7 linked regions of the Homo sapiens genome follow. The protein of the gene in region 1 interacts with the protein of each later gene in a biochemical or structural test. Each region holds a gene or a part of one and is shown in the gene's direction. Other genes may lie near its edges.

The links.
Region 2: of the proteins of AKT1 (region 1) and FOXO3, one has a biochemical effect on the other in vitro, tested with the Homo sapiens proteins (2 studies listed by BioGRID and IntAct).
Region 3: of the proteins of AKT1 (region 1) and SMARCC1, one has a biochemical effect on the other in vitro, tested with the Homo sapiens proteins (2 studies listed by BioGRID, with this or other methods).
Region 4: of the proteins of AKT1 (region 1) and PPP2CA, one has a biochemical effect on the other in vitro, tested with the Homo sapiens proteins (6 studies listed by BioGRID and IntAct, with this or other methods).
Region 5: of the proteins of AKT1 (region 1) and EP300, one has a biochemical effect on the other in vitro, tested with the Homo sapiens proteins (3 studies listed by BioGRID, with this or other methods).
Region 6: of the proteins of AKT1 (region 1) and NEDD4, one has a biochemical effect on the other in vitro, tested with the Homo sapiens proteins (3 studies listed by BioGRID, with this or other methods).
Region 7: of the proteins of AKT1 (region 1) and CREBBP, one has a biochemical effect on the other in vitro, tested with the Homo sapiens proteins (2 studies listed by BioGRID, with this or other methods).

The regions. Positions count from the first base shown.
Region 1 is NC_000014.9:104,781,906-104,786,204, reverse strand, and holds part of AKT1 (RAC-alpha serine/threonine-protein kinase), read left to right. Parts: intron 1-4,299. UniProt on the Homo sapiens protein: AKT1 is one of 3 closely related serine/threonine-protein kinases (AKT1, AKT2 and AKT3) called the AKT kinase, and which regulate many processes including metabolism, proliferation, cell survival, growth and angiogenesis.
Region 2 is NC_000006.12:108,563,583-108,567,881, forward strand, and holds part of FOXO3 (forkhead box protein O3), read left to right. Parts: intron 1-3,589; exon of another isoform or gene 3,590-3,967; intron 3,968-4,299. UniProt on the Homo sapiens protein: Transcriptional activator that recognizes and binds to the DNA sequence 5'-[AG]TAAA[TC]A-3' and regulates different processes, such as apoptosis and autophagy.
Region 3 is NC_000003.12:47,771,269-47,775,567, reverse strand, and holds part of SMARCC1 (SWI/SNF complex subunit SMARCC1), read left to right. Parts: intron 1-2,631; coding exon 2,632-2,751; intron 2,752-4,299. UniProt on the Homo sapiens protein: Involved in transcriptional activation and repression of select genes by chromatin remodeling (alteration of DNA-nucleosome topology).
Region 4 is NC_000005.10:134,205,363-134,209,661, reverse strand, and holds part of PPP2CA (serine/threonine-protein phosphatase 2A catalytic subunit alpha isoform), read left to right. Parts: intron 1-3,530; coding exon 3,531-3,740; intron 3,741-4,299. UniProt on the Homo sapiens protein: Catalytic subunit of protein phosphatase 2A (PP2A), a serine/threonine phosphatase involved in the regulation of a wide variety of enzymes, signal transduction pathways, and cellular events.
Region 5 is NC_000022.11:41,147,434-41,151,732, forward strand, and holds part of EP300 (histone acetyltransferase p300), read left to right. Parts: intron 1-403; coding exon 404-513; intron 514-1,604; coding exon 1,605-1,742; intron 1,743-2,327; coding exon 2,328-2,765; intron 2,766-4,299. UniProt on the Homo sapiens protein: Functions as a histone acetyltransferase and regulates transcription via chromatin remodeling. Acetylates all four core histones in nucleosomes. Histone acetylation gives an epigenetic tag for transcriptional activation.
Region 6 is NC_000015.10:55,836,296-55,840,594, reverse strand, and holds part of NEDD4 (E3 ubiquitin-protein ligase NEDD4), read left to right. Parts: intron 1-77; coding exon 78-148; intron 149-1,990; coding exon 1,991-2,086; intron 2,087-2,414; coding exon 2,415-2,488; intron 2,489-2,745; coding exon 2,746-2,806; intron 2,807-4,299. UniProt on the Homo sapiens protein: E3 ubiquitin-protein ligase which accepts ubiquitin from an E2 ubiquitin-conjugating enzyme in the form of a thioester and then directly transfers the ubiquitin to targeted substrates. Specifically ubiquitinates 'Lys-63' in target proteins.
Region 7 is NC_000016.10:3,873,655-3,877,953, reverse strand, and holds part of CREBBP (CREB-binding protein), read left to right. Parts: intron 1-4,299. UniProt on the Homo sapiens protein: Acetylates histones, giving a specific tag for transcriptional activation. Mediates acetylation of histone H3 at 'Lys-18' and 'Lys-27' (H3K18ac and H3K27ac, respectively).

The DNA.
Region 1 (4,299 bases):
AGGCGCCAGGGAGGGGCTGCAGCCTCATCTGCAGGGGTCCTGAGTAGGCAGGGTGGGCCATGACATGGGTGGGGCTTGTTTGGGGCAGACCAAAAATGAGGTGGGGGACAGGGACAGGGACAGGGTCTTGGGATGTGCTGGGCTCTGCGATGGATGGGTGTGTGGCAGGTGGGGTGCCTTTGCCGGCCCGAGGGGTGGGTGACGGGCAGTGCCTGTGGGGGAGGACATCCAGGCCCAGGTGGTCTGTCAGGGGCAGCACCAGGGAGGCCCAGTACCCCACCCAGTAGAGCCCCAGGAGAATGGAAAGCTGAGACCCAGGTGCTTCCCTGGAGTGGCAGGAAGAGAGGCCCCAGCGCCTCCGGCTGTGCCTCAGCGAGGTGGACGGGGTCATGGTGGTGCCGCCTGCCCGCACCATGTTCCTCCCGGGGTGTGTGTGTCGGGCTGAGGCCTGCTCCATGGTGGAGCGGAAGGAGGTGAAGAATTTGCAGTTTGTGTCAAGTTACAACCCCTGCCTTGGCGGCAGGACCTGGGGTCTCTCTGGTCATGATCTGCCTCTGAGGGTCACCTCCCCTAAGTCTCCGTTTTCCCAGGGAGCTGATGGGCATGATGAGCCCTGCCCGCCCTGCCTGCCTGGTGGGCTTTCTGGGAGAGCAGAATGGGTCCTGGGCTGGGCGAGGCCCAGGCAGGTGGAGCGCCAGTCCTCTGCCTGGCGGGAACAGACACCTCTCCTTGTGCAGACTGGCCACTTGTGCCCCCTCAGAAGGGCTTGTGCCGGGAGGAGCAGTGGATGTATTTCACCCACAGACCTGGGGGCTCCAGCCAAGTGGGGTCAGCTGGCCTCCGTTGTGTGGCCCCTCCCCTGCCCCCACCCCAGCCTGGTTGTTTACAGGGTTCGAGGGCTGCTGGTAAAGGGGTGTGTACTCCCGGGCCCGGGCAGAGGCCTGGCAGGCCGGGCCCTTCGCGGTGAGCTGTGCGGTCTCCTGGCAGGCGGGGAGGGTGGGTTGCGGGCCCCTCATGGGCTGCCGTCAGCGGAGCCGTCTGCTCAATGTGCTGGAGAAGGTAAATGGGCCCCCGGCAGCTGTCGGGGCGATGGATGTGTCGGCAGTGGGGACCACGGTGGCCGCTGTCAGCTGGCGCCCGCTCCCAGGGCCTGCTGGGCTCACTTTGCTGTGGAGAAGCAGCTCGGTGCCGCCTGGCACCCTGCCAGCCGCTGCCACCACCGTCTCTGCGAAGTGTTTATCCAGCAGTTTCCTGAGAACTGGGGACTTTGAGAGAATGTTCAGGGAGCTGAGGACGTGGTGGCCTAGGGGGGCTGACACACCTGGTGGCTCAGGAGGTGGTCAGTCCCGGGACGTGGAGGGCCACCAGCTGGCCCTCAGGGGCCCACCCAGTCCTGCCCATGGCGCGTGGGTCCTGGCCCCCATGTCTAAGTGGGTGCCGCTTTGGGGGGCCTGACCCACAGTGTGGCCTGGGACACGTGTGTGAGGCGTGGAGAGGGTGGGCTGCCTGTGACTGTCCATGTGGTCCCCGTGGTGGTGGTGGGGTGGGTTGGGGGAGGCCAGGCAGGAGCAGCTTCCTCTCAGAACCCCGGTATTTGGTCCAGGAGGACTTCTGGGAAGGAACCCTCTTTCCCTGGGGGTGCTCCAGCCCCTTCCTGGGGATGAGCGGGGTTGGGGATGGAAGGTCACTCCTGCCGGAGGGCCACCCGGGACATCGGGATGCCAGAGGGACCAGGGCTGGGGTTGTGTGGGGCCCAGGAGGTGCAGGAGGAGTCGAGGGAGCCTGGTCTCCGCTGTCCCCCCGGGCAGGGACAGGAGTCTGGCCAACTGCCTACCCCCCACCGAGGGCAGCCACCTCCCATGCCTGGAGCCCTGGGCCATGGATGTGCTGGCTGGTGGGGAGGGTTACGGGTTTCATCAGGCACAGGAGCCCCTGCCCTTGTGGCTTCACAGGACCTGGTCTTGGATAGGTGCAGTGTCACAGGGTTAAGGGTCAGGGTGGCTCCCACCTGGCCCAGGGCTGGCCTTGAGAGAACCCTGAAGGGTGGGACCGGAGCTGCTGCCTCCCACTGCCCAGGGGGCCAGCAGGAGGGTGAGACTGGAACTGCTGCTTCCCCGCTGCCGAGGGAACCGGCCATGGGGCAGGAGGGTGGGACCGGAGCTGCTGCTTCCCCCTTGCCCAGGGGACCAGCCATGGGGCAGGAAGGTGGGACCAGTCCCCAGTGCCGTCCTCCACTCGGCCCCCCACTCAGGTCTTCTGGCAGTGGTGTGGGGTCCCCCATCCGGACTTGCTGACATTTCTGAAGGGGCACCTAGCCGTCTTCCCTGCCAGACCCTGAGGCCCAGGCCGGGGTTGCACTGGGACCCTGCCTGCTCCAGGTCCCGGGTCTGAAACATGTGCAGCGGGTGGGGACTTGGGGGTTCTTGAGCCCAGCATGGGGGTGTGAGAGTTAGGGACTGAAGAGGCCCCCTGGGCCTGAATGCTGGGCGGTCTCCATTGCCCTTGGGAGTGGCTGCTGGCAGGAGATGACTCTGGCTGTGTGTGGGGTGGGGCGTGCCCTGGCCTCCCCATTTGTTGCCTGCCTGTACCCGTCTGGAGTGAGGGCCTGGCGTGGCAACCTGGGGGTCTGTGCCCACTCTGTGTTTGGTGCCCTCAGCTGTGCAGGCAGGTGGGTGGGGTGGTGTTGGGGGGGTGACTGGGGTGGGGTGGGGGGATGCCAGCTGGCTGATGGTGGGGAGATGGAAGGCCCCTCTGTGGCGGGTGCTTCCCATGGTCGGTGTGGAGGACGAGGTCCCTACTGCCTGGTTCCAGTTCCCCCAGCAATGCAGGGCACTTTTCCTGGGGTGTCAGGGATTGAGAGGCCACTCTTCAAGTGGACTGTACTCCTGCCTCGAGTGGGGGGCATCTGAGGACCACAACAGGGTGGGGAACTCAAGTTAAGTCCTGGATGACAGGTTCCAGTTCCCCTGGGGACCCTCAGGATAGTGAAGGAGAAGACTCCATGTGGGTTGGTCTCTTTGTGTGAGGGGTCTGGGAGGGCAGCCCTGGCTGATGTGTCTGTGCTCCCACCCTCCTGAGGGACCCGGAGTAGGCAGGTGCAGGCCTGCAGGCGTCCTGTGGCCATGAGGACAGTGATGCTGGGCCCCGGGTGGCTGTCTCCTCCACCTGCCCCGTCCTGTGTCACCCCAGTCCTGGATCAGGGAGTAGTGGGGCCCTGCCGCATCTGCTGTCGGGGCTGGCCGCCCACCCAGCATCCTGTCTGGGCTGAACTCGTTAAGATGCGCGCCACGGCCCTGGCTGCAGCTGGCACCCCCCCAAGTGATCCTCTAGCTGACCCTCTAGGCGAGAGATGAAGAAAGAGAACTGTGTGTCTCTGGACCCCTTACCCCGGGTCCCTGGGGATCCTGCTCCTCCCCTGGAGGGGTCTGTGTGCTGGGCTGGGATGCCGAAGACAAAGGCCACGTGAGGCCCCTTCACTCACACCCGTCTCCTGGGGTAGGCCCTGATCGCCGTCTGTTCCCTGGGTCTGTGGGGCCAGGCGAGGGGAAGGCACTGAAAGCCCAGGGCCCATTTGGGCCTCTGCCCATCCCAGGACTCCCCAGGAATGCTCGGGGCTGGGCACCTGTCCTCTCCCACCCCCCACGCCTGGTAAGCGCCGCCCCTGGGCCTGCCCCTCCCGCACCCCCAGATCCAGCTCCCAGAACCCCCCAGATGCAGCTCACAGAACCTGGGGCTGGGCTTGTGGCAGCAGGGTCAGGGGCAAGGCTGGGGTTGGGCACGGGAGCTGCGTGCTCGGGGGCAGCACGGGGCCATGCTGGGCACGGTGGGGGCTGGCAGCAGTTGGTGGATAAGATGGGTTTCAGGGGTGCCGGGCCTGGGCGCTCATCAGTCTTCCCGCTCAGTTAGCGTCCCGGGGAGTGGCAGCTGGCAGGATGGGAGGCACTCCATCAGGGGCCGACAGCTCCAGACTGGCATGCAGGCGGGTGGGCGTGAGCAGCGGGGTGGCCCAGGATGGGGGACGGGTGGGGTGGGCTGCATGCAGCCCCCTGAGCCTGCTCTGCTCTCACTGAGCGCCCCTGCCTGCCCGCTGCACCTGCAGGGGCCCTGTGGCTGGGGGAGGGGACGTGGGAGGCGGGGTGGAGCTGCGTGGCACGTATGTGCGTGTATGTGCACACTCGGGGGTGTGCGAGATCCCAGGTCAGGGACAGGAGCCGGCACCCAAGGGTGGCAGGACCACGCCTGCTCGGCAGCCCACTGGCAGGGGCATGGAGGGCTTGCGGAGTGGGTGGGGTCTCCTGA
Region 2 (4,299 bases), on another chromosome or scaffold:
TCTCTCACTTGAAATTTAGTCTTGCATGTTTGAATTTGGTGAGGAGAATACGTTAGTGAAAAGTTAGTTAACTTTAAACTTAGTTAAAACGTTAACGTAGGAAGGCGTTTTCACCTTTCCTGTGATTTTTAAGGTTACAAAAATAATTTAATTTCACAAATATTTCTTGTTATTTTGTTTATAGTTAAATATAATAAGTTTAATGAACTTTATTTTTGGGGGGAAGATTTACATGAGATAATGGTATTACCAAAAGTAGCCGCGAATTGAGATTGGGCTAGATACATTTTCATATAGTTTGTAGGACTTGCAATACAGATTTTGGGACTAGTCATAAACTTTATGGTTTTATGTCATCGTTTTTTTGTCTTATGGTTTTTTTTTTTTACCCTTCTCTGCTATCTCATTTCTCTTCAACTAAAATCTTAGAAAATACTGTAAATTGAAATTCTCAAGGCTTAATATGCTTAATACAGGGCACACATTTTATGATTCTTTTACCTTAAAATTTTTTACCAATTCCATTTCTGAGTGTCACATGACAACTAATCCTTGACGACTAAAGGGATATAATTTTGTTAGAGTTTTTATAAGATGATCTTCATCAAAAGATGCAGCCATGCAGGAACTTTCAAATCTTTGATGATGGAGAAGGCCCTTTGAAACTGGAGCTGGTTTTATATTTTGATTATGACTAATAGGCAACCTTTTTTTGTGTGTGCTTGTGGTTTAGTGGAAGAAGAGGGAAAAGGGAGAGATCAGGAGCTAATTGTGACCCATTTCCAAGTGTCCAAGTTTAGGAGTTGATTCTTGTCATGATTAGTCATTTTGGAAGCACGCATGTGCATTTAAACCACACTACTTTCATTCTGAGTAATGTAAGAGGATTTTTAACTTCCAAAAATGTCTAGAATTCAGGTTAACGTCTCCTAGTCATGTGTGCATAAAGGGCACGGTATGCAGGGCCTTACTTCTTTTCAGGCTATTTGGGCCATTGCATTATGAGACCTTGTAACCAAAATTATCACCCTAACATCATAAAATGAAAGAATTAGAAAAGAGGACTTAGAGATCAGAATCTAAATCAGTGGTTCTCAGCCCTGGTTGCATGTTTGAATTACCTGGGAACTTCTGAAAAATACAAATACCCAGAGAATTTGATATAATTTGGCTTGTGTGTGGCTTAGCATTGATGGTTTTGTGTTTTGTTTTTTTTTTTCAAGTTTCTTAGGTGATTCTAATGTATAGTTAGGATGAAGTTTTCTGATCTAGTTCAACCCTCTTATTTTACTGGTGAAAAACCTGATTTTTGGAAAAGCTAATGACTTTCTTAAGATCACACAGCTAGTTAGTAGAGAGGTAATTAGTAGCCACAGTTCTAGAGGTTTTTGTTTTCCATTTTCTTCTTTAAATTGATCTTTTTTAAAAGGTCATTTGCTAGGTAATGGATAGTCTCACATAAGTAGCGCTTGCTTTCCTGAAAGGCTTATTTGCCTCTCAATCTAAAAACATCTTGCTTATTATTTCAGCATCAAAAGGATGGGCAAATGTAGATGGAGGCTGAGTGAGTGTATCATGTTTGCATAGCTGTCCAGTGCCTGTCAGTAGGGGTACTTAGGAACTATGAAGTGATAAAAGAGGTAAGAAGGATAGCATTTTAACAAAAAGAGGAAGCCCTTGGTTACTTACATTTGTCAGATACTGTGTCAGGGAGAAGGATGATGACTATCTCACAGGTTCCCTTACCTCGGGCATTAAAGTAGAAATGAACAATCAGATGTGGTTAAGAGGGGAAAAGGTTACATTTCCTTTAATTCAGATTAAGCTTGCACTGCACCCATGATTGAACAAGTGAGTTCTCTCAGTTCCTCTTGTCTTGGGGAGACCTCTAAGGACGCCAGGGCTTACCTGGTAAGGCCTATCTATCACTTATTTCGTTATACACAGCACACATCTGCTTTTCCCATGGGTCAGGGTGTAATCAAATTAGGCAGACTTGAGTTTCTGTAGTGGTTCCCATAATTTCACAAGTGTGGGGGATACTGTGTTAAGATTTCTGCTGCTGCTGCTGCTGCAGAAGATAATTCTTCAAGAGTCCGAGTCTTCTTTCATGTAAGAATGTGTATTGTTATGGCTTCTTGCCAAGATAAAAAGATGAGGGCTGTCCTGTCACATAATGCTTATTTGTGTCCTCACTGTTTCTGTTCTTTAGATTAATACATCCAGTTCCTTTTCAACACACTGTATTAGGAAAATGTTATTTTAACTGCAACTCTGTTTTAAATTTTTTTTTAATTTGAAAATGACTAAGTCATAATCATTCCACATTGGCTCATAATTTTGACCTCAGTCACCTTTTGGAGTAACTCACCAAAAGGCCAGTTATGGTCGTGTGTGAAGAATCTGTCTGCTTGGCCCGTGTTGCCAAAATGTCGTTTTGTAATTTCCTTTGGCAATAGTGTCTTCGTCAGTGATTCTCAACTAATATACTTCCTCTTTCTACAGCCCCAGTACACTAGAGGGACTGTTTTTCCTCTTTTTCAAAGCTGTGTCATTGACCTCTGAAGTGAAGAAATTGGCCCTTTTAGACTTTGATCTGTGAGTCCCATGTAACAGAGACTCTTTAAAAAAGAAGCTAAGTGTGTGTTTTGATATGTTTATCTCCTTCTTAGAAAATGAAATGAAACTACAGCAGACTTATTTTTAGGAGATTTTAGGAGTGTTCTATTTTAAGAAAATGACACCATACAAGAACATCTTTTAGTTAAACTTCTTAGTACTCTGCTTGTGATTCTTACTTAAAACCTGCAAGATACTTTTATTTGGAAAATTAATGAAGAGGCCTTGTCTCACTAATAAGTCATTTAATTTGGTCTGGCAAAAGTTTACCATCCATTCAAAGATCTTCATGAAAATGCAAAGATAAGGCTGTTTAGGCTTGAGCCCAGGAGTTCAAGACCAGCTTGGGCACATAGCAAAACCCCATCTTATTTTTTTTTTAAAGACTGTTTAGGCCTGTGCATTCTGGCAGGTTGCCCCACTTACCCAGAGCAGGTGCATCAGATTCCAGATTCCCAGGGCTGGAGAGAATATGGAATTTATTTTGTTTGTATACCCACTTATTTTGCCTATAGGGACAGACTTGACCCTATTCTCAACTCCTCATTTCTCTCCTTTTCCTGCATCACAAATTGAGGGGTCCTGAAGAGCCACTTTACCTTTTTGGTGCTATAAAAGGAGCTGGGGATCATAAATGCAAAGACGAGTTGATATCAGTGGATGTTACAGCTGGTATACAGTAAGTGAATGAAAGATTGGAAAGAGAAAACCCTTTTTACCCATTTGCATCACATCCCATTTCATGTATTCAACAAATGTTTATCAAAGGCATGCTGCTTGCAGAGCATTTGCCAGGACTTAGGGATATAGTGGTAGCAGAAGGCAGATAAAGTTCCAGTTCACTCACAGGAGTTCATATTCTGATGGAGGAGACAGAAAATAAGCTATAGCATATCTGTGCTTTGTGAATTTGTCATTGCTGCCTATTCCCGTTGCCTTTTTTTTACATCTGTATTTCTGCTTTCTCTAGTACTTCAACTCTGCTAAGAAGTTGCTGGGAAGTGGCAAATTTGATGTGGGGCATGGCTTGGAGCTAGCCTTTAACTCTCTGCAGATCATTTTGAGCTTGCTTTGGAGATGCAAAACCACCGTACCATGGCTCCTGTGGATTGGGTCTGTTTGGGAGAAGCTTTGGTTTTCCAAGCTCCACCTGGATTAGATAGAGCACATCTTTGGCCCTGGACTGATCTGGGATCCCCAGTTCTGTCTCCCAGGGCCTGATGTAGATCTGGCCTTCCTCTGGAGTGGATGTGGAGCCTTGATGCCACTGACTCATCTGTATTACTTGTTGCCTAAAACTCAGAACTAAAAGAGATCTTAAAGATCATCTAACTACCTTATTTTGCAGGTGAGAAACATGCTAGGACTATGTGAGTGACTGGGTTCAGGGTTCCACAGCTAGTAGGGGTGGAGTAACGGGTGTGTCCAGTCAGTGCAGTGGTTCATGCCTATAATTTTAACACTTTGGGAGGCCAAGGCAGGAGGATTGCCTGAGGCCAGGAGTTTGAGACCAGCCTGGGCAACAAAGTGAGACCTCGTCTCTACCAGAAAAAAAGAAAACTAGGCCAGGTGCGGTGGCTCATGCCTGTAATCCCAGCACTTTGGGAGGCCCAGGTGGGTGGATCACCTGAGGTCAGGAGTTCGAGACCAGCCTTACCAACATGGTGAAACCCTGTCTCT
Region 3 (4,299 bases), on another chromosome or scaffold:
TCTCCTGACCTCGTGATTCGCCCGCCTCGGCCTCCCAAAGTGCTGGGATTCCAGGTGTGAGCCACCACCGCGCCTGGCCCTTGAATACCGTTTATTAAAAATTTACGGGGCTGGGCGCGGTGGCTCACACCTGTAATCCCAGCACTTTGGGAGGCCGAGGCAGGCGAATCACGAGGTCAGGAGATCGAGACCATCCTGACTAACATGGTGAAACCCCGTCTCTACTAAAAATACAAAAAATTAGCCAGGCGTGGTGGTGGGCGCCTGTAGTCCCAGCTACTCGGGAGGCTGAGACAGGAGAATGTTGTGAACCTGGGGGGCAGAGCTTGCAGTGAGCCAAGATCGCACCACTGCACTCCAGCCTGGGCAACAGAGTGAGACTGTCTCAAAAAAAAAAAAAAAAGTACTATGTTGAGTATATTGGAGAAAAACTGACTTCAAATTTTCACTTGAAAGTATATGGGCCAGGTGCAGTACCTTATGCCTCTAATCCCAGTACTTTTTGGGAGGCCAAAGTGAGAGAATCACTTGAACCCAGGAGTTCTAGACTAGCCCAGAGAAGTTGGTGAAAACGGTTGTGTACAGAAAATTAAAAATCAGCCAGATGTGTTGGCACGCCTCTGTAGTCCTAGCTCTCTGGGAGGTGGAGGAGGAGGATCACTTGAGCCCAGGAGATTGAGGCTGCGGTGGCTGTCATTACACCACTGTATTCCATCCTGGGAGACAGCAAGAAACCACTGTCTTGAAAAAAAAAAGTATATGGTCCTTCAAAAACTAGGCTTGCTAGTTTTTGTTGCAAATTATCAATATAGTATAAGGAAGGGGAAAGTAGTATGTAGTTTTTAAAGTTTTTAAAATTGGCTGGGCACAGTACTGTAATCCCAGCACTTTGGGAGGCTGAGGCGGGTGGATCACGAGGTCAGGAGATCGAGACCATCCTGGCTAACATGGTGAAACCCCGTCTCTACTAAAAATACAAAAAATTAGCCGGGAATGGTGGTGGGTGCCTGTAGTCCCAGTTTATTGGGAGGCTGAGGCAGGAGAACGATGTGAACCCAGAAGGCAGAGCTTGCACTGAGCAGAGATTGCGCCACTGTGCTCCAGCCTGGGTGACAGAGCGAGACTCCAAAAACACACACACAAAAAAAGTTTTTAAAATTAATTATTTGAGACGGAGTCTGGCTCTGTCACCCAGGCTGGAGTGCATGGGGACAGGTGTGCGCCACCACACCCAGCTAATTTTTTGTATTTGTTTTTTAGTGGAGACGGGGTTTCGTCATTTCAGGCTAAGTGATGGAAGAAGACCCCATCTCAAAAAAAAAAAAAAAAAAGTAAATGATTGCCTTTTTATATGCTGTAAGTAAGTTTCAATGGTAGTAGCAGAAATTGTGTGCCCTTTGTCCTATGCATAATAATTGTAGACTTTGCAGTTGATGTAATTTTGACCATACACCACTCATCTAAAAAATATTTATTGTAATAGAGACATACCACATTAACCTTGAAATGTTGGATGGTAGTTCGAAAGTTAGCTCCGGCAAAAAAAAATAAAAAAATAAAAATTCTCTCGTCCAACTGAAAGGCAGGTATAGATGTTTTTCTTGCTTGGAATTGGAGGTTTAAAAATACTTTTTGAGGCTGAGTGTGGTGGCTCACGCCTGTAATCCTAGCGCTTTGGGTGGCCGAAGTGGGCGGATCATGAGGTCAGAAGTTAAAGACCAGCCTGGCCAACATAGTGAAACCCCGTCTCTACTAAAAATACAAACAAAATTAGCCGGGCATGGTGGTTGCGCGCCTGTAGTCCCAGCTGCTAGGGAGGCTGAGGGAGGAGAATCGCTTGAACTCTGGAGGCGGAGGTTGCAGTGAGCTGAGATGATGCCATTGCACTCCAACCTGGGTGAAAAACAAGACTCTGTCTCAAAAAAAAAGAAAAAAAATTTTTTGAGAGTATTGGCTACTCAAAGTGATATTGAACATGTAATTGCCAAATAAAACTTTTACATTTAACTCACTAATTTATTCTTTTCTTGTTGTGTTACCCATTATTTTTCCTTGCTGTGAAGCTTCCTAGCTGATGTGTCTACTACTGGTTTGGGCTTTTGACATTCTTTACATTAATATGGATAATATTTCACTTTTTTTTTTTTTTTTTGGTAAAAAACACAGGAGATTTATCTTTGTGAGGTCGAGGCAGGGGCAGGTCACATGAGGTCAGGAGTTTGAGGCTAGCCTATCCAATGTGGTGAAACCCCGTCTCTACTAAAAATACAAAAGTAGTTGGGGGTAGTGGCTCATACCTGTAATCCCAGCTACTCTGGAGACTGAGGCAGGAGAATGACTTGAACCCGGGAGGCAGAGGTTGCAGTGAGCCGAGATTGCACCGCTGCACTCCAGCCTGGGTGACAAGACCGAAGCTCCGTCTCAAAGAAAAGAAAAAAAAAATTAACCGTCTTAACCATTTTTAAATGCACACACATATTTGTTTTTGTAAGCTCCTTTATAGCACAGAGCGTGTCTCAGACATCTATAAATTTCCCATAACGTAAGTACTTAGTAGGTACTAGGAAGTAAGCCAACATTTTCTCCTGCAAAAATTGTACTAGTTTTTGAATGCCTGTCTTTATCTTGCAGTATGTTCATGCGGATGCTCCTACCAATAAAACACTGGCTGGGCTGGTGGTGCAGCTTCTTCAGTTCCAGGAAGATGCCTTTGGGAAGCATGTCACCAACCCGGCCTTCACCAAACTCCCTGTAAGTACATCAGCTTACTGTTATTTGGGCATCCTCAGTTGCTGTATACTTTTAGGTGTAGCATCCAGCTTTTTTCCTTTGCTGCTGCTAGCGTGTAGAATTTAAAAAAAAAAAGCAAAAAACAAATTTTAGTTATAGAATATTACTATTTTTTAACTGTAGGAAGCTGCTTTTTGAAGAGGCATTTAACATTTGCATTAAATATTGCAGCAGTCATTGTGAAGACCTAACAATATTTTACTATGTTGCAGTTCCCTATCCTCTCGCCGTACCGAGTCTTCTCCATGCTTTCTCCTGATGCAGCTCTTATGCCATAAATAGAATTTATGGAATTTTTTATATTTTGTAGGTGAGATACCTTCTGAAGTTGTGTGAGAATATAATTTTGGTGTCCTTGCAATTGTGTGTTTTATTTTTGTTTTTACAGACAGGATCTTGTTCTGTTGCCCAGGCTGGAGTGCAGTGGTTTGATCACAGCGCACTGCAGCCTTGATCTCCCGGCTCTAGCCATCTTCCCACCTCAGGTTCCCAAGAGGCTGGGACTACTAGCATGTGCTACCACGCGCATATGGGTGACTTTTAAATTTCTGTAGTGATGGGATCTTGCTGTGTTGCCCAGGCTGGTCTCAAATTTTTGGCGGGAAGGCGATCCTTCTGCATTGGCCTCTGAAAGCTCTTTGATTACTGGTGCGAGCCACCACACCAGCCCTTCTCTGCTATCTTTATTTTATTTAATTAATTTATTTATGAGACAGAGTCTCGCTCTGTCACCCAGGCTAGAGTGCAGTGGTGTGATTTCGGCTCACTGCAACCTGCAGCGATTCTTGTGCCTCAAGACTCCCGAATAGCTAGGATTACAGGTGCGCGCCACCACACCCAGCTAATTTTTGTATTTTTAGTAGACACATGGTTTCACCATGTTGGCCAGGCTGGTCTTGAACTCGCAGCCTCAAGTGATCCACCCACCTCGGCCTCCCAAAGTGCCGGGAGTACAGGTGTGAGCCACCACACCCAGCCTTTATTTTTATGTTATGATATGTTATGTTATGTTATATTATATCATGTTATTTTTTGAGATACAGTCTTGTTCTGTCGCCCAGGCTGGAGTGCAGTGGAGTGATCTTGGCTCACTGCAACCTCTGCCTCCCGGGTTCAAGCGATTCTCCTGCCTCAGCCTCCTGAGTAGCTGGGACTACAGGCATGCACCACCCACCGCACCTGGCTAATTTTTGTATTTTTAGTAGATATGGGGTTTCACTGTGTTGGCCCCGCTGGTCTTGAACTCAAGTGATTTCCCTACCTCGGCCTCCCAGAGCACTGGGATTACAAGTGGGAGCCACTGTGCCCAGCCTCTGCTATCTTATACTCCTTTATTTATATTTTCGAACTCTGATTTTACAAATACTAGCTTTTTAGGAATTGTCTGTCATATCTTTCCTCATAATTTTTGTCTTTTAATTCATTTTGGTTTTCGTTGTTTCTAGCGTGCTGTTAGCTGCCTGTATGAATCTATGATCAGTAGACCTTTTTTGTGGGGACTGTTCTTGA
Region 4 (4,299 bases), on another chromosome or scaffold:
AGATTACGGGCCTACACCACAACACCCAGCTGTTTTGTGTTTTTAGTAGAGACGGGGTTTTACCATGTTGGCCAGGCTGGTCTGGAGCTCCTGACCTCAAGTGATCCACTCGCCTCAGCCTCGCAAAGTATTGGGATTTGGGATTACAGGCGTGAGCCACTGCACCCAGCCCAAAATGATCTTTTATATGAACATCTGTAGCTTTTATTGTTCTACTGTTCTGGTGTAGTCTGTTTTATTGTTGTAACTATCTGAGAGCTGGTAAGTTGAGACCAAAACAACAACAACAAAACAACCAAAATCATGCTTAAAACTGGTTCTTTCCAAGGTTGCATTTTTGTTAAGATCTACTTAATAGTTGATTGGATGATTTTTTTTTTTTCCCCCTCCGGTCTGAGGGATGGTTGCTTCTACTGTATACCACTGTTATCGCCAGTATTTAATTATATTTGTTCTGGTCTGTGAAGTTTGGTAGGAAGGGAAGAAAGAGCTCTGGTTGGCTTTTCTAGATTGACAAGTTAGAAATTTCACTTAAGAGTTAACTGTTCTTTTTATTTTAAAGGACAATTTGATAATGTCAACATTTAAAAACCAAACTACTAGATACACTAGTTAAGTTCACTTCATAGTATCTTCTCTCAGGAAATGTGCCTGCATATGTATACAGAGGAGAAAATACGAGGATATATATTGCTGTAGTTTCACACCCCTCTGCCATTGTAATTGGTCAGGGGAATACTCTGCCTCCACTATGAGAAAATAACCAGCTGTCTCAATAAATGTTATGTATTATTATATATTGTTAGAAAAGCAGGCTGCTGAACAATATTGTTTCTAGTTTAAAAATGCAAAGGAAAACTATTGTTTCTGTAGACATACAGTATGTGTGTAAACTTTGTAAACAAAGTTTTAAAGGATATACAGACACTCCCCAATTTTTCGACTTAATGATGGTGTGAAAATGATAGCTATTCAATATACCCCTCAGTTTATGATGGGACTACATCCAGATAAATATATCATAACTTGAAAACATTGTAAGCTGAAAACACACTGTTGACTCGATTATATTTACGATAGGATTATCTGGATGCAGCTGTGTTACAAATTGAGGAGCATCTGTACATCAAAATTTTATTGGTAACTTTGCCCAAAGGGGGTGGGATTGTGTAGGGTGCTCAAAGGGAACATTTCATTTTATCTGTGCCGAAATTTTTTACAAGAATGTATTACTAATTTGTATAGTTTAAAAAATAGATAACACTGTTTATCGGTGTGATTTGCCTAAATTGAAATAAAAGCAACAAATAGCATTTAGACTTAATTTTCCTTCATGATTTGAATAGAAAATTTGAGTCAGTTGTAGTAAGGAACTTCAGGCAGTCCTGAAAGTCAACTTTTTATTATTAATACAGAGAATAGCTTTGCAGATAAACAGATATTCACAGAAGTATATTAACATTTAACTTCTGATAGCTTTAAATGTGAAAATTACATCATGGCAAGATTTACATGGTATATAACCATCTGTTTGCTTATGTCATGCCCTTTTAAAACTTCTGAATAACTTTTGCAAGTTTCTTCTCAGTGTAGGACTTATTTCATTTAGTTATTTTCATTAATATATGATAGGTGTTAAAAAAACACTAGATGTGGTATTAATGCCAGACAGACTTGGTAATGGAATAAGCCTAGTGAATTTGTGTTTTTTAGTGATAGTAAATGGGAAGTTGGAATTACCCTGCAGAGAAAAATTTCAGAATGAAGTAGGATTTGATAATAATGGGTTGTACATATTTCTTAATAGGTATCTCAGGCCAGTATAGTGGCTAACGCCTGTAATTCAGCACTTTGGGAGGCAGAGGTGGGCAAATCATTTAAGCTCAGGAGTTTGAGGCCAGCCTGGACAACATGGTGAAACCTCACCTCTACAAAAAGTGCAAAATAGGCATAGTGGTGCACACCTGTGGTCGCAATTGTTCATGGAGACTGAGGCAGGAGGATCGTTTGAACCTGGGAGGTGGAGGTTATAGTGAGCCGAGATCATGCCACTGTACTCCAGGCTGGTCTGGAACTCCTGGGGTCAAGCCATCCACCCGCCTTAGCGTCCCAAAGTGCAGTGGTTCTTAAACTTGGTTGCACACTGGGAAAAGGAGGGGTGGGGGTGCTTAAAAATTATTGATGGCTTGATTCCAGTCTCCAAAATTCTGACTTTATTAGGGGAAGGAATGGGCATTGGTGTTTTTGTTTTTGTTTTGAGACAGAGTCTTGGTCTGTCACCCAGGCTGGAGTGCAGTGATGCGATCTTGGCTCACGGCAACCTCCACCTCCCAAGTTTAAGCAATTCTCCTGCCTCAGCCTCCCAAGTAGCTGGTACTACAGTCATGCACCACCATGCCTAGCTAGTTTTTTTTATTTTTAGTGGAGATGGGGTTTCGCCATGATGGCCAGGCTGGCCTCAAACTCCTGACCTCAAGTGATCGGCCCGCCTTGGCCTCCCAAAGTGCTGGGATTACAGGTGCGAGCCACCGCGCCTGGCTGGGCATTGGGATTTTTAATGTGCAGCTAAGATTGCATACCAATGCTTTGAACCCAGTCCTTGTCATCTGTGGTTGTCATGGCTCATTAGCAACAATTCTCTGGTAATTTGTTTTGGTATCTTATGTAAAGTGGTCTCTCCCAGTTTCCCTCTCCCTTTCCTTTGTGACACTTAACACAGTGTACTTTTGGCTTGGTTACTTGTTTGTGGTCCTTCTCCCCTCTACGGTAGTGGGAATGAGCCATCTTGTTCACCACTATATGTCCAGTTGCTAGCATGGGGCTGGTACAGATGGTTGAGCAAATGATTTTCTCACAGGTATGAGCCACAGTGCTTGGCCAAAAACATGTTTTTAAAAAGTCAAACAGGGCTGAGGTGAGGTGGCTTATGCATGTAATCCCAGCCCTTGGGAGGATGAGGGTGGAGGATCACGTGAGACCCCGTCTCTACAAAAAAGTTTGTGAAAATTAGCCAGCCATGGTGGCGTGTGCCTGTGGTCCCCACTACTGAGGTGGGAAGATTCCTGAGCCAAGAAGATCCAGGCTACAGTGAGCTATGATCATACTACTGCACTCCAGCCTGGGTGACAAAATGAGACCCTGTCTCAAAAAAAGAAAAAAAAAGAATCTTTGAGTGCTGCATTGTAGTTAGAACTCTGAAGGTAAGGAAGTAGATACCTGAATGTCCTGTTCGATTTTCATTGGTTTTATGTGACAGCTAACAATTAGTATTTAATTAGATGGCTATTTGATAGGTTTTTAAAAAACTCCTGGTATTGATGATAGGAATGCATATTTTTTCCCTAGGTAACAGGGTGAGATAGCTAATGGATTATAATCATATCTCACTTATTTTAATGGGTTCATAAATGCCTGCAATTTTATCTTAGACTGAGTCTGCCCCTTAAGCTACATTAAGTGTAAGTAAACAAATCTTTGTTAATATTGTTTAATGCCAAATGTATTGCCTTATTTTTGTCTCCCATCTGTAGGCTAAAGAAATCCTGACAAAAGAATCCAACGTGCAAGAGGTTCGATGTCCAGTTACTGTCTGTGGAGATGTGCATGGGCAATTTCATGATCTCATGGAACTGTTTAGAATTGGTGGCAAATCACCAGATACAAATTACTTGTTTATGGGAGATTATGTTGACAGAGGATATTATTCAGTTGAAACAGTTACACTGCTTGTAGCTCTTAAGGTAATTTCAATTTTATGTTGGGGCATGTTGAAATGGGTAAGACAGTCCTCTTGAAAGTTTTTTTTCCCCCAGTTATTTTCTCTATCTGAATGTTAAAACAAAATTCCACATTTAGGAATGCATATGTTCAGGTTTTGGACTTAAAAATCATAGGCGTCTGCGTTCTGAGTAAGGGGATGGTACAGAATCAAAACAAAAGGAGGAGAATGAATGCCTCAGTCAGATTGTTTGAAAAAATAGGCTGGGCGTGATGGCTTATGCCTGTAATCCCAGCACTTTGGGACGCTGAGGTAGGCAGATCACCTGAGGTCAGGAGTTCGAGACCAGCCTGGAGAACATGGTGAAGCCCCATCTCTACTAAAAGTACAAAAAACTAGCCGGGGGTGGTGGCGGGTGCCTGTAATCCCAGCTACTCTGGAGCCTGAGGCAGGAGAATTGCTTGAACCTGGGAGGCGGAGGTTGCAGTGAGCTGAGATTGCGCCACTACACGCCAGCCTGGACAACAGAGCGAGACTGTCTCAAAAAAAAAAAAAGGAAAAGAAAAATGTTAGAGGGCTGG
Region 5 (4,299 bases), on another chromosome or scaffold:
TTATTAGTCCTGATAGAATCAGGGCCAGGTGCGGTGGCTCACGCCTGTAATCCCAGCACTTTGGGAGGCTGAGGCGGGCAGATCACAAGGTCAGGAGATAGAGACCATCCTGGCTAACACAGTGAAACCCCCGTCTCTACTAAAAATACAAAAAATTAGCTGGGTGTGGTGGCGGACGCCTGTAGTCCCAGCTACTCAGGAGGCTGAGGCAGGAGAATGGTGTGAACCCAGGTGGCAGAGCTTGCAGTGAGCGGAGATTGCGCCACTGCACTCCAGCCTGGGCGACAGAGCAAGACTCCGTCTCAAAAAAAAAAAAAGATACAGAATCAGACATAAGAATTCTATCTTTTATTATTCAATTTCACAAAGGCATTCAGATCTAACATTTTGCTCATATTCACAGGTTTGAATCAATTTGGCCAGATGAGCATGGCCCAGCCCCCTATTGTACCCCGGCAAACCCCTCCTCTTCAGCACCATGGACAGTTGGCTCAACCTGGAGCTCTCAACCCGGTTAGTTTGACGTCTTTGGTAATCTCTTTGGCCTTTACCTGGTATTTTGAAAATCCTGTTTGTTCCTACTTTATAAATTCTCACAGTCATTTAAACAGACCATAACTCCTAGTTCTTCTGTAATTCTTCTGTATTTAACTCTACTAGAAAGCTGACCAAAAAACGAAAACAGCCAGTCCCTTGTCCCTGGAGTGTCAGTGTTTAGTGGCCTGCATGCGTTTTCACGGTCACTTCTCTTCCCTGATGTCTGTCTTCCCTCCTCCAGGCAGAGAACTGTCTTGCAAGGTTGATGGTGCGTTTTTGCCTGGTTCTTGAACTCGGAGAAGAGAGACTAGGCTTCTCCTGCTCCTTATGCGAACTCTTAACCAGTCCATCTCTCTACCTTGACCCTAACCCTCCTGCTGCCCTTTAGAGTTAGCTGGTGCCTCTGATTCTTGACCCTTTTGGGGGTTCCTGAGCATTACTACTTCTCACTAATCTGCCATTTTCAACAGGGAGTTCTGTCCTTCATTTTAACCTATAAGACAGATGGTCTTAGCTTATGAAGTTTTTGGCCTTTGGTACTCGAGATTTCTTTCTTTAAGGCCTGAATTTGTGTAGGGTAATTTTGGAAATGACATGTAACAGTGCTAGAGCATTTGTGGACCATGAATGCTACCAGATTCTGCTACAACTTGTAAGATTTTCTTGTTTTTACATATTATGGGTCTTAGAATTTGTGTTATTACATCACTGACATGACCTCATGAAATTGTGATTAACTCTCCTCACTTAACAGAGCATGCAAAGAAAATTACCTGCTATCCTTGTGCTAGGCATATTTGTGTACCAAGAGAATGTGTGTTCCATCCTCTTACTATTTCTTGGAGTAGGCCTAGGTAAACTGTGAGGCTATTTCTCTTTATCTTGGCACAAGAGTCAGTTGTTCTACAACTTTCTTCCTTCTCCTCTTCAGCCCTCTTCACCTATACTCCTGTCTTTGGCTTTTCTCTACTTAATAAGCCTGACGTTAGGAGCATTTGATGATTTTAGTTATAGTAGAATAACTATAATGAAGCAGTTTGGTGATTTGTGTTTTTTTTTTTTTTCAGCCTATGGGCTATGGGCCTCGTATGCAACAGCCTTCCAACCAGGGCCAGTTCCTTCCTCAGACTCAGTTCCCATCACAGGGAATGAATGTAACAAATATCCCTTTGGCTCCGTCCAGCGGTCAAGCTCCAGTGTCTCAAGTATGTCTCATAAGTGGATTTTTCACTTATTTTTGATTCTTGAAACTTCTCTTGATGTAGGTTTTTATAGGAGAGAGTGGCAGCAAATAGTGGGTGAAAACAGATGATTTTTTAAAAAATAACAATTTTGGACTTAGGGTATTCTGAACATGAAGAGATTATTCTGTGACATAGCAATGGTGTTAATTGTTACAAAGTAGGAAATAATTTAAATGGATAGTTTTAATTGTTTTTACTAGTGAACACTTTAAAATAAATCTTAGAATTAAACACAATGTAGAAGGAAATCTGGCTGAAAAGAGCATAGGCAGGCCCTAGAGCACTCTGCACTCAATTCTGCCATTTTTCTGCGGTGGCTGAGGCCATTCTGCTGAATGGTTTGAAGTCTCTTTAGTTAAGTACTATCTTGATGGTGCTGTCCAAAGATACATGCCCAGTAATAGGGTATTTTACACATTTTGAAATAGACACATTGCTACTCTTTGTTTAATCAGTTTGTGTCCTAAATTTATATATCATGCCTATGTAAGTATTTCCTTAATTCTGTTCTGAATTGCTGTCTTGTTATGTTTTTTATTTTAACAGGCACAAATGTCTAGTTCTTCCTGCCCGGTGAACTCTCCTATAATGCCTCCAGGGTCTCAGGGGAGCCACATTCACTGTCCCCAGCTTCCTCAACCAGCTCTTCATCAGAATTCACCCTCGCCTGTACCTAGTCGTACCCCCACCCCTCACCATACTCCCCCAAGCATAGGGGCTCAGCAGCCACCAGCAACAACAATTCCAGCCCCTGTTCCTACACCTCCTGCCATGCCACCTGGGCCACAGTCCCAGGCTCTACATCCCCCTCCAAGGCAGACACCTACACCACCAACAACACAACTTCCCCAACAAGTGCAGCCTTCACTTCCTGCTGCACCTTCTGCTGACCAGCCCCAGCAGCAGCCTCGCTCACAGCAGAGCACAGCAGCGTCTGTTCCTACCCCAACAGCACCGCTGCTTCCTCCGCAGCCTGCAACTCCAGTAAGTAGAGATTTGGATTTAGGCAGAATCATTAGAGCTATACTGTAGTATTATATTACTTCTGGGCCATTTCCATTCTCTTTTGCTTTATCTCTTACTGTTTTCTCCACAAGTAGAATGTAATCTATTTTTCATTAGGGACTTTTGTATCCTGTTTTGCCTTCCTGTGATAGTACCTATCGTAGCAGGAGCATAAAGATTTTATTTAGCTCTGACTTTGACCATTATGTTTCATGTTGTACCCTGAGGTCTGAAGGTACGTAAAGGGGTACGACAAGGGGACACAATCCTTCTCCTTATTTAGTATATTATTTAGTGCAGCACATAAATTTTACATATATTTAAGGAATCTTTTTCAAACAGTTTGAGCCATAAAACCTAGAGATTGAATTTAAAAATTGCAGATTTGGACGGGCGCGGTGGTGTACACTTTTCATCCTAGCACTTTGGGAGGCTGTGGCAGGCAGATCACTTGAGGTCAGGAGTTCAAGACCAGCCTGGCCAACATGGTGAAACCCTGTCTCTACAAAAAAATAACAAAAATTAGCCAGACATGGTAGCGGGTGCCTGTAATCCCAGCTACTCGGGAGACTGAGGCAGGAGAATGGCTTGAACCTGGGAGGTGGAGGTTGCAGTGATCCGAGATTGCGCCACTGCACTCTAGCCTAGGCGACAGAGTGAAACTCCGTCTAAAAAAAAAAAAAAAAATTGCAGATTTATGAGTCCTTGTGGCCCAAACCAAAGTTTAAAAATAAGATGAGAGAATTATAGACCCAGAACAACCTGTAGCTTCCTTGTGAGAGGTTGGTTATGTATATAATAAAAATCCAAATTCTCATCTAATAGTTGAATCCTTATTAATAGAACTTTTTTTAAGGGTTTAGAAGCTTCTACTTTGATACCGATATTAATATATATCGGTATCCAATAGTTCTCAGCCATGTTGATGAACTGAGAAGTTCCATGAGTCACAGCCGTTTTATAAAGTACTGTACTTGACGGATGGCTGGTTCATCGTGGCCTCTGATAGACAAGGAAGGACAGAATGAGAGAGGAACCAGTGGATCTGCTTGATTTTATTCTTTATAAAATCAAGGATACTTCCAGAAAATACTGACTTCTCATTAAGAGATTTCTTATGACAAGCCTTAGGATAAAGATAGGGAATGCCAGTTTATCTCATTAGAATCTAGCGATTCAAAACAGCCACTCTCTGGGACATCATTATATTTATTGTCTCCTTTTCTGTACCTTTGAAACTTTCTCTGGTGAGAAGGTAAAAACAAGCCAGTCTTTCTTATTTTCTTTCACTCATTTCTGTATAAATGTGAGCTCCTCTGAAGCAGACATCTTTGAAATCCCCACACACTGCCAGATAATGATAGTTATCAATGAAATAGTTGCTGGTTCTTTGATGTACAATCAGCCAACCAGTATTTACAAGTCTTAATTCTCCTGTTCTTAAGCATAATTAAGGGAGGTGAAATGGGCAGAGCAAATGAAAGCACCATGAATAAATATAAGCCAAGAAATA
Region 6 (4,299 bases), on another chromosome or scaffold:
GTATAAACTTTTTACAATATAATTACCTGTTTTCTTTCACTTGGTAATCATCCTAAATGTATTTGGTTTTTTGCAAGGTTTTTTCATCCGCCCATTTTACAAGATGATGCTTCACAAACCAATAACCCTTCATGATATGGAATCTGTGGTATGTCTTTTTCACTTATAGTATAGACGAAGTATAATTTAACAAGCAGCTTGAACATTTTGAAGAATTTGCTTTTAATGACATGGAAATTAATATATTATCATGTTTCAAAATACAAATGAACTTTTTCCTCAACATTTTATTATGAAAATTTTCTAACATATAATAAAGTTGGAAGAATTTTACATTGGACAGTTGTATATCAACTACTCACAATTGCTTTTTTTCTAGATTTACTTTATCACATACCTATCTGTCTATCCATCAGTCTGTCTTAGTTTCTTCATGCATTTCAGAGTAAGTTATAGATAACATTAAACATCCCACTAAATACTTCAATAGGTTATACCAAGTTATATGTCTTTTGAATCAGTATTTGCATTATGATCTTTTATGATGAATGTTATATATATATATATATATATATATATATATATATATATATATTTTTTTTTTTTTTTTTTTTTTTTTTTGAGACAGAGTGTCACTCTGTTGCCAAGCTGGAGTGCAGTGGCGTGATCTTGGCTCACTGCAACCTCTGCTTTCCAAGTTCAAGCAATTCTCTGCCTCAGCCTCCTGTGTAGCTGGGACTACAGGCGCGCACCACCACACTCAGCTAATTTTTGTATATTTAGTAGAGACGGGGTTTCACCGTGTTCACCAGGATGGTCTCAGTCTTTTGACCTCGTTATCCGCCTGCCTCAGCGTCCCAAAGTGCTGGGATTACAGGCATGAGCCACCGCACCTGGCCAAATGGTGTATATTTTTTAAATGGCAGTCGAAAGGCAAAGCGTTATGGTTAGGTTCCTAGAAAAAAACAGAAGCCCAAGGATTAAACCCCGGACTGTAGCCGTGTTGTTTCCTGTGCTGCTGAATAGCCTCACACAATGTGTGTTCACATGAATTCCAGGGCATCTTCCTTAGTACCAAGTTCATTTTTTATTCTTTTCTTATTACATATTAACAGCACAAACAGTGTGATTCTTTATAAATCATAAGATTGCACAGTTACTTGAGTTGGTTCATTGAGCCTCTATATTTATTAAGAGATTTTTCTTTAACTCGGGCTGGGTATAAACAATGGCCTCCTCATAGCTACTTAAACATTTCACACTTAGTGCCGGACACAGGGGTGTGCAACTGTAATCCCAGCACTTTGGGAAGCTGAGGCAGGTGGATCACTTGAGGTCAGGAGTTTGAGACCAGCCTGGCCAACATGGTGATACTCTGTCTCTACAAAAAATACAAAAATTAGCCAGGCGTGGTGGTGCGCGCCTGTAGTCCCAGCTACTTGGGAGGCTGAGGTAGGAGGATCACTTGAGTCAAGGAGGTCGAGGCTGCAGTGAGCCACAGTCGCCCCACTGCACTCCAACCTAAGGGACAGAGCGAGACCCTGTCTCAAAAAAAAAAAAATTAAATTAAAAAATAAAAATAAAACATTTAACACGAAGTCACATAGGCATATGAGGAATGTGCTAAGTGCTCCTGGATATCCAGAGAAGTTAGGTTTTATCTGAAAACTTCTGTATTCATTCCTTTAACTGGATGATAAAATCTGTACCTCCACTGCTTCCACATAAACATAGATTCTAAACTTTTAAGTAGGCACCAATTGATTAATTGATTGATGCATTTTTACTCTTGCCCTTACCTGTCATCCATCTCTTTTTGTAATACACACACATACACACATACATTTTTGTTTATATATGTGTGTAAGTAAAGGATGTCCATCTGACCTCTCATCTTTTACCCAATTATTCAGACCCTCTACATACTGTTTTTTGCAATTTCAGGTGTGTTATAGATACAAATTTTAAATATGTAATTTTTCCCATCTAGGATAGTGAATATTACAATTCCCTAAGATGGATTCTTGAAAATGACCCAACAGAATTGGACCTCAGGTTTATCATAGATGAAGAACTTTTTGGACAGGTTTGTGAATTTTGATCAGTTAAAATGGCACATAAATTGTGAGACAAATGTTTAGATGTTAATACGTACACTTAATACATTCCTAGGCTCTGTTTTTACATTCATTTCCCAGTAACAAAAGCTGTCTCTGAGCAAGAATTTGTACTTTCTTTAACATTTGACTCGTTCCATATTTATTTTAGTAAAACTAGTATTTTAAGTTTTCTTAGTTTTTAACTTTTGACTGGACTTAATTTAAAACACCAAGTTTCTCGTATAACTACAATATGTATACTTTTTAAATTTTTCTCGCTAAAATAACATATCAAGTTATTGTGTTTAATTTTAGACACATCAACATGAGCTGAAAAATGGTGGATCAGAAATAGTTGTCACCAATAAGAACAAAAAGGAATATATTTAGTAAGTATTTTATTAGTATGTATTTTATTGGATATAATTTTGTACTTTATTCCAGAAAGACTCTTCTTACCATCTTTCTCTGTCCCCTTGTCCAGAATCTCAGTGTTCTTTTTCTCTATCACAATGCAGTAGCAAGCACTCATATTCAGCTTTTACCTTGGTCTCAGCTAGCCTTTAGTTTTTGTTTCTAACTAGAATAATTGTGCCTCAGAATTTTGTCTTGGTTCACATGAAAATGAAATGTTGTTTCTTTTTAGTCTTGTAATACAATGGCGATTTGTAAACCGAATCCAGAAGCAAATGGCTGCTTTTAAAGAGGTATTCATTTTCTTTTATTTGCTCTTCCATAATGTCACAGTATAACCTATAAGTTTCAAATATTAGGCCTCATCACATCTGAGAAAAATAAGTATATGGCTTGTTTTGTGAAATCATTCTAAATTATATTTTTATATTAACTAAATATTCCATTCAGTCATTCAAGAAGTCTAGACAATAAACATGGACAGGTCCCCTTTCCCCCAAGCCTTTTCCCTATTCCATTCTCTTCACTTTAGGACAGCAAAAGAACAAGAGTGCTTTAGGGATAGTATAACATATTGTTTGTTTTTCTAAATAGGATCACCTTACACATTTTGTTTTGTGACTTACTTTCTTCTTTTTTTTTTTTTTTTGAGCGCGGAGTGAGTCACTTTGTCGCCCAGGCTGGAATGCAGTGGCGTGATCTCGGCTCACTGCAACCTGCACCTCCCAGGTTCAAGCAATTCTCCTGCCTCAGCCTCCTGAGTAGCTGGGATTACAGGTGCCCGCCACCACGCCTGGCTAATTTTTGTATTTTTAGTAGAGACATGGTTTCACCATGTTGGTCGGGCTGGTCTCAAACTCCAGACCTCAAGTGATCCATCCACCTTGGCCTCCCAAAGTGCTGGGGTTACCAGTGTGAGCCACCGTGCTCGGCCTACTTTCTTCTTTTATCAGATATTTATTAGGGATATTTACATGTGACGACATATAGCTGCCTTTCTTTGTGGCTATATTTTATTCAGAATATAAATTAAAAAGTTACTTAAATTTTTCCAATTGGTAGACAGATTGTCAGAGCACTCATTTCTTAAGCTAACTTACAATCTTCTGTTAAATATGTATCTGGCTGGGCATGGTGGCTGACGCCTAAAATCCCAACACTTGAGGAGGCTGAGGCGGGAGGATTGCTTGAGCCCAGGAGTTCGAGACCAACGTGGACAACATAGGGAGACCTTATCTCTATAAAAAATTAAAAATTTGGGCGCGGTGGCTCATTCCTGTGATCCCAGCACTTTGGGAGTCCGAGGTGGGCAGATTGCCTGAGGTCAGGAGTTTGAGACTAGTCTGGCTAATGTGGTGAAACCCTGTCTCTACTAAAAATACAAAAAAATTAGCCGGACGTGGTGGCGTGCACGTGCAGTCCCAGCTACTCGGGAGGCTGAGGCAGGGGAATTGCTTGAACCTGAGAGGCAGAGGTTGCAGTGAGCCAAGATTACGCCACTGCACTCCATCCTGGGCAACAGAGCGAGACTCCGTCTCAAAAAAAAAATTAGCCTGGTGTCATGGCATGTGCATATGGTCACAGCTACTTGGGAGGCTGAGGCTGGAGGATCACTTGAGCCTGGGAAGTCGAGGCTACAGTCAGCTATGAGCTATGATGGCACTACTGCACTCCAGTCTGGGCTACAGAGTGAAACTTTGTCTCTAAAGTGTGTGTGTGTGTGTGTGTGTGTGTGTGTGTGTGTGTGTGTCACATACTTTTTCATAAATTCAGTATTGAGTACTAT
Region 7 (4,299 bases), on another chromosome or scaffold:
AGGATTTTCCACACTTAACCACCTTTTCCCCCTTCCTTTACAATTTTGATCCTTGTAAGGCACAGGGGCTCTTTCGTGGGACCAAAAGTCAGCTTTAAATGGCTCCGATTTAATCCAAAGTAGAAAGTCAACATCATACTTAAGTTGGGTCATGTGTTACACATTCATCACCATCACACTATTGTGAAAGGGTCTGTTAGTATGGGGGACCAAGGAAGGGCTCATTATCAAGCACATTAAACAAGGGGCTGCTGGGCGCCATGGCTCATGCCTGTAATCCCAGCACTTTGGGAGGCGGAGGCTGGTGGATCAACTTCAGGTCAGGAGTTCAAGACCAGCCTGGCCAACATGGGGAAACCCCATCTGTACTCAAAATACAAAAACATAGCCAGGCATGGTGACATGCACCTGTAATTCCAGCTACTTGAGAGGCTGAGGCATGACAATTGCTTGAACTCGGGAGGCAGAGGTTGCAGTGAGCCAAGATCGCGCCACTGCACTCCAGCCTGGGTAATGGAGTGAGACGCTGTCTCCAAAAGAAACGAGGGACACTTTGTCTGTTGTAACTGCTCCACTAAGAAATTGAGTAATGAGATGGACAGAGATCTTAGGGATGTATTTTAAACAAATAAATGGCTTGAGTTTTTACATTAAATACATTCAAAAACTGAAGGCATTTGGTTAGGTGGGACAGACCTGAGAATAACATTCTTGAGGAACTCAATCTTATTTTAGTGACGGGATGTGTCTCTGAGGCTCCCAGGGGAAAATTGGGCCTAGTGGAGCAGGGTGTGTGCCCGGTGCATGTGATCAAATTTGAGGGAGGGGACCTCTGTCTAGGAGCTGAGGGGTTGAAAGGAGGAGGAGCCCTTGGCAGCCTGAGAAACAGGATCTACTTGGACTGCAGTGCATGTCTGTAGAGACTGGCCTGTGGGGCCACCAGTGTCACTTAGATGTGTCTGTGAAGGGTGGCAGTGAGCTGAGAGAAAAATGCACCCGACATTGGGGAGCTGCTCAGCCAGGGTGCTGCTCATCTGGGGGCATGGATGTTGCAAACAGCACTCCCGAAGGTCATGCAGCACCTCAGAGTGATGAATGTCACTGCCACTGATGACAAACAAGTTGCCGAAGCCTGGGAAGCTTATGCAGAGATGATGCAGAAATACGGAATGTGCTGCGAATGAGGGTAGCAAGAGAGAAACGGTACCTTTCACCCCACTGAAGCAGCAGCCCTGGAGAGGCACAGAATTTGATGGCCTCAGATGTTAAAGTAGCATTTTCTTGTATTATGTAGAAGCCTTTACACTTTCTCATACATGAGGTCTTCCTTTACTTGGCACCCTTACAATAAGTGGGGACTTTATATTACCGGTATATAGTTAGTTGGGTGTTTTGGAAACTTCTTTATTTAATATGTCCAAGTTAAAATAGCATATTGTGTCTTTCAACATCAGAGATTCATGATTTAACAGTATAAGACAAATATCCAGGCAAGCAGTAGACTTTTGTTTTTTGTTTTCTGGGTTGTTTTTTTTTTTTTTTTTTTTTTTTTTTGGTCAGCTTTATTGCAAAATTTGCACACAACAGACTGTTTATAAAGTTTTTTGAAATTGCAGGCCAGGGTGGTGGCTCATGCCTATAATCCCAGTGCTTAGGGAGACTGAGACAGGAGGATTGCTTGAGGCCAGCAGTTGGAGACCAGCCTGGACAACATAGTGAGACCCCATCTAAACAAAAAATTTTTTTAATTAGTTGGGTGTAATAGTACAATCCTGTAATCCCAGCTATTCAGGAGGCTGTGGCAGGAGGATCGCTTGAGCCCAGGAGGTCGAGGCTGCAGTGAGCTGTGATCATGCCACTGCACTCTGGCCTGGGTGACAGAGTGAGACCCTGTCTCTGGGGGAAAAAGGAAAAGAAAAACTACATTCTGAAGATTGAACATAGCTGTGTTTCATCCTGTGCTGTATAAGTGGCTCTAAGCAGTTGTGATTACATTTTATGACGTGAATCCTTTTAAATGCAATAGGGAAGCTTATTTAAAGAAAGCTGGTGGCGAATATGGTTGTCAACCAAATGGTCTGTTATGTATGTCTGGTACTTTATGTATCAGAGTGCTTTTCTCCACGTCACCTCAGTTTGATCCTTACAGCGTCCTGTGAGGAAGGGAAGATGCTGTTACTGCTATTTTCTAGGTGAGGAACTGGACTTGAGAGGTGATACAGGGTCAAAACCAGATCCAAACTAGATTGTTAAAGTCCGTAGCTCTATATATTTATTTTCTAAGTCTCTATCTGTAAACAATGCATTTACTTGAATCGACCCAGGAACCTGCCAAGCTTAGTGAGTTTCAGTAGCGGCCTTCCCGCACATGAATGAGATCACTAAGGGGGAGGTTTGTAACCACCTGTGGTGGGGGCAGCCAGGAGTGTATTCTTCCTCCTGGGTTAGGGCGTCCCCCTTTTCCCTCTGGTTCTGGTGTTATCCTCAGCGTGACGTGTGTGGGCTCGTGTTCCTGTTTACCTCAGGGAGAATGAGAAACGGTTATGTTACCCCATCAGTGAGTTCTGGCTAAGTAGGAATAAAAGTTGTCATAGAGACTTTTAGGACTAGGACATTTCATGACCGTGCTTCGTTTTTGAATAACTGAGAGGGGTGAGAGCGGTGGCCCCATTCAAAGGTCGTCAGGGATGAAGGTAGGCAAGGACAAGTCATGTGCAGGGCGCCTTAGAGGGCCTTCAGAAGATGGAAAGTCGCTCCTGGCTGAACATTCAGATTTGATTCTGTAAACAGAATTGAACATAACTTACAAAGAGACTGAGTCCTGCAGTTGGAAGTTGATGCTTAGATTAGTCGCCTGTGTTTTCACAGCTTCTAAGTAGTGTGTTGTAATTGTGTGGCAAAGTATGTGATTACCTGGGGGGTCCATAATTGCTGACTTGTGTTTTTACTTGATGTATTTGAAAACAGTTAGGAAAATGATTTTGCCAAAGTGTGTCTTACCTTAGTTAAGATGAAATGTACCTTATTGTGAGTTTCTGAAGATTGCAAAAGCTTGTCAGTTTAGTTTTTGGGGTCCCATTAGTGAGGGCACCCCTCTTTACCTTACTCAAACCAGCTCTTCACATGTATTCCAAGAAACTAGAGGGCATGCTAAGAGGTATTTCTCAACAAATGGTTTGTGCTCAGATGCTGTTGCTTGTAGCTGAGGAATTTGACTGCAGACTTTCCCAGAGCCTTGGTGTCCTGATTGGGCACTGTGAGAGAGGGGCTACAGTTGGACCACTCTCAATCCTGTTTGACGCTAGAACTCTTTTTAGCCTATTATGGGTCCGCAGACTTCCTCTGCAAAGGGCCAGAGAGCACGCATTTGGCTTTCTGAGCCATATGGTCTCTTGTTGCAACTACTCAAGGCTGCCATTTCAGCAAGAAAGTAGCCATAGGCGAGTGGGCCTGGCTGTGTTCCAGTAAAACTCTAGTTGTAAAGACTGGCATCTGAGGACTTCGCCCATGGGCTGCAATTTGGTGACTGATATAACGTGGGACTTCATTCTCTGAGCACCCGTTGGGGAGCACTGGCCTACCACGGCTGCACAGACAGCTTTAAGGAAAACAGCAGCAGGGCAAGTTTTCTGAGCTGCATGATGTGGAGCCCGGGAGAGCCCAGGTGAGCAGCAGGCTAGCTTGGGTCTCCTGTCTTGGAGCACTTCAGAGCTTAGCAGGGCCCTCTCTCTCTGTCTTTTTTGTTCCTCTGTAACAGTTATATGGATGACTTGATTTAAAATCAGACGAATTTATCAGAAAGCCTGGTGACCGGTTGCATTTTTCTTTGTTCTTTTGCTTTTTGTTGACCCCAGTGGCCCACATGGCATTTCTCGTCCGTCTTTGTCATCTCAGGCTCTAGGCTTGCTCCCCTTCCTGTGACACCAGAAGGTGAGCGTCAGTAAGAACTCCAGAGCCTTTCCACGGCCCTCTTCCCAGCACTTCCCTCCCCAGGGGCAGTGCCTGACACATAGTAGGCCCTCAGGAAATATTTGAGGGAATTAGTGAAAGAATTATATAGTATTTGTCCCTTAAAGTTCTTATCATTTTCTTGTTAAGGTTTTACTTTCAAGCAGATTGCCACCTATCTTCTAATTGGGTCTGTTATTTGCTTCCGAGTTCCGTACCCATGGGCTCCCACCCGGCCACCAAACCAGCTGGCCTTAGGAGTGCTGAGGCCAGAGCATGTTTGGGGCAAGTTACATCAGCTCTCTGAGCTCAGAGTTTCCTCATCTGTAACATGGAGATAATAACAATTCC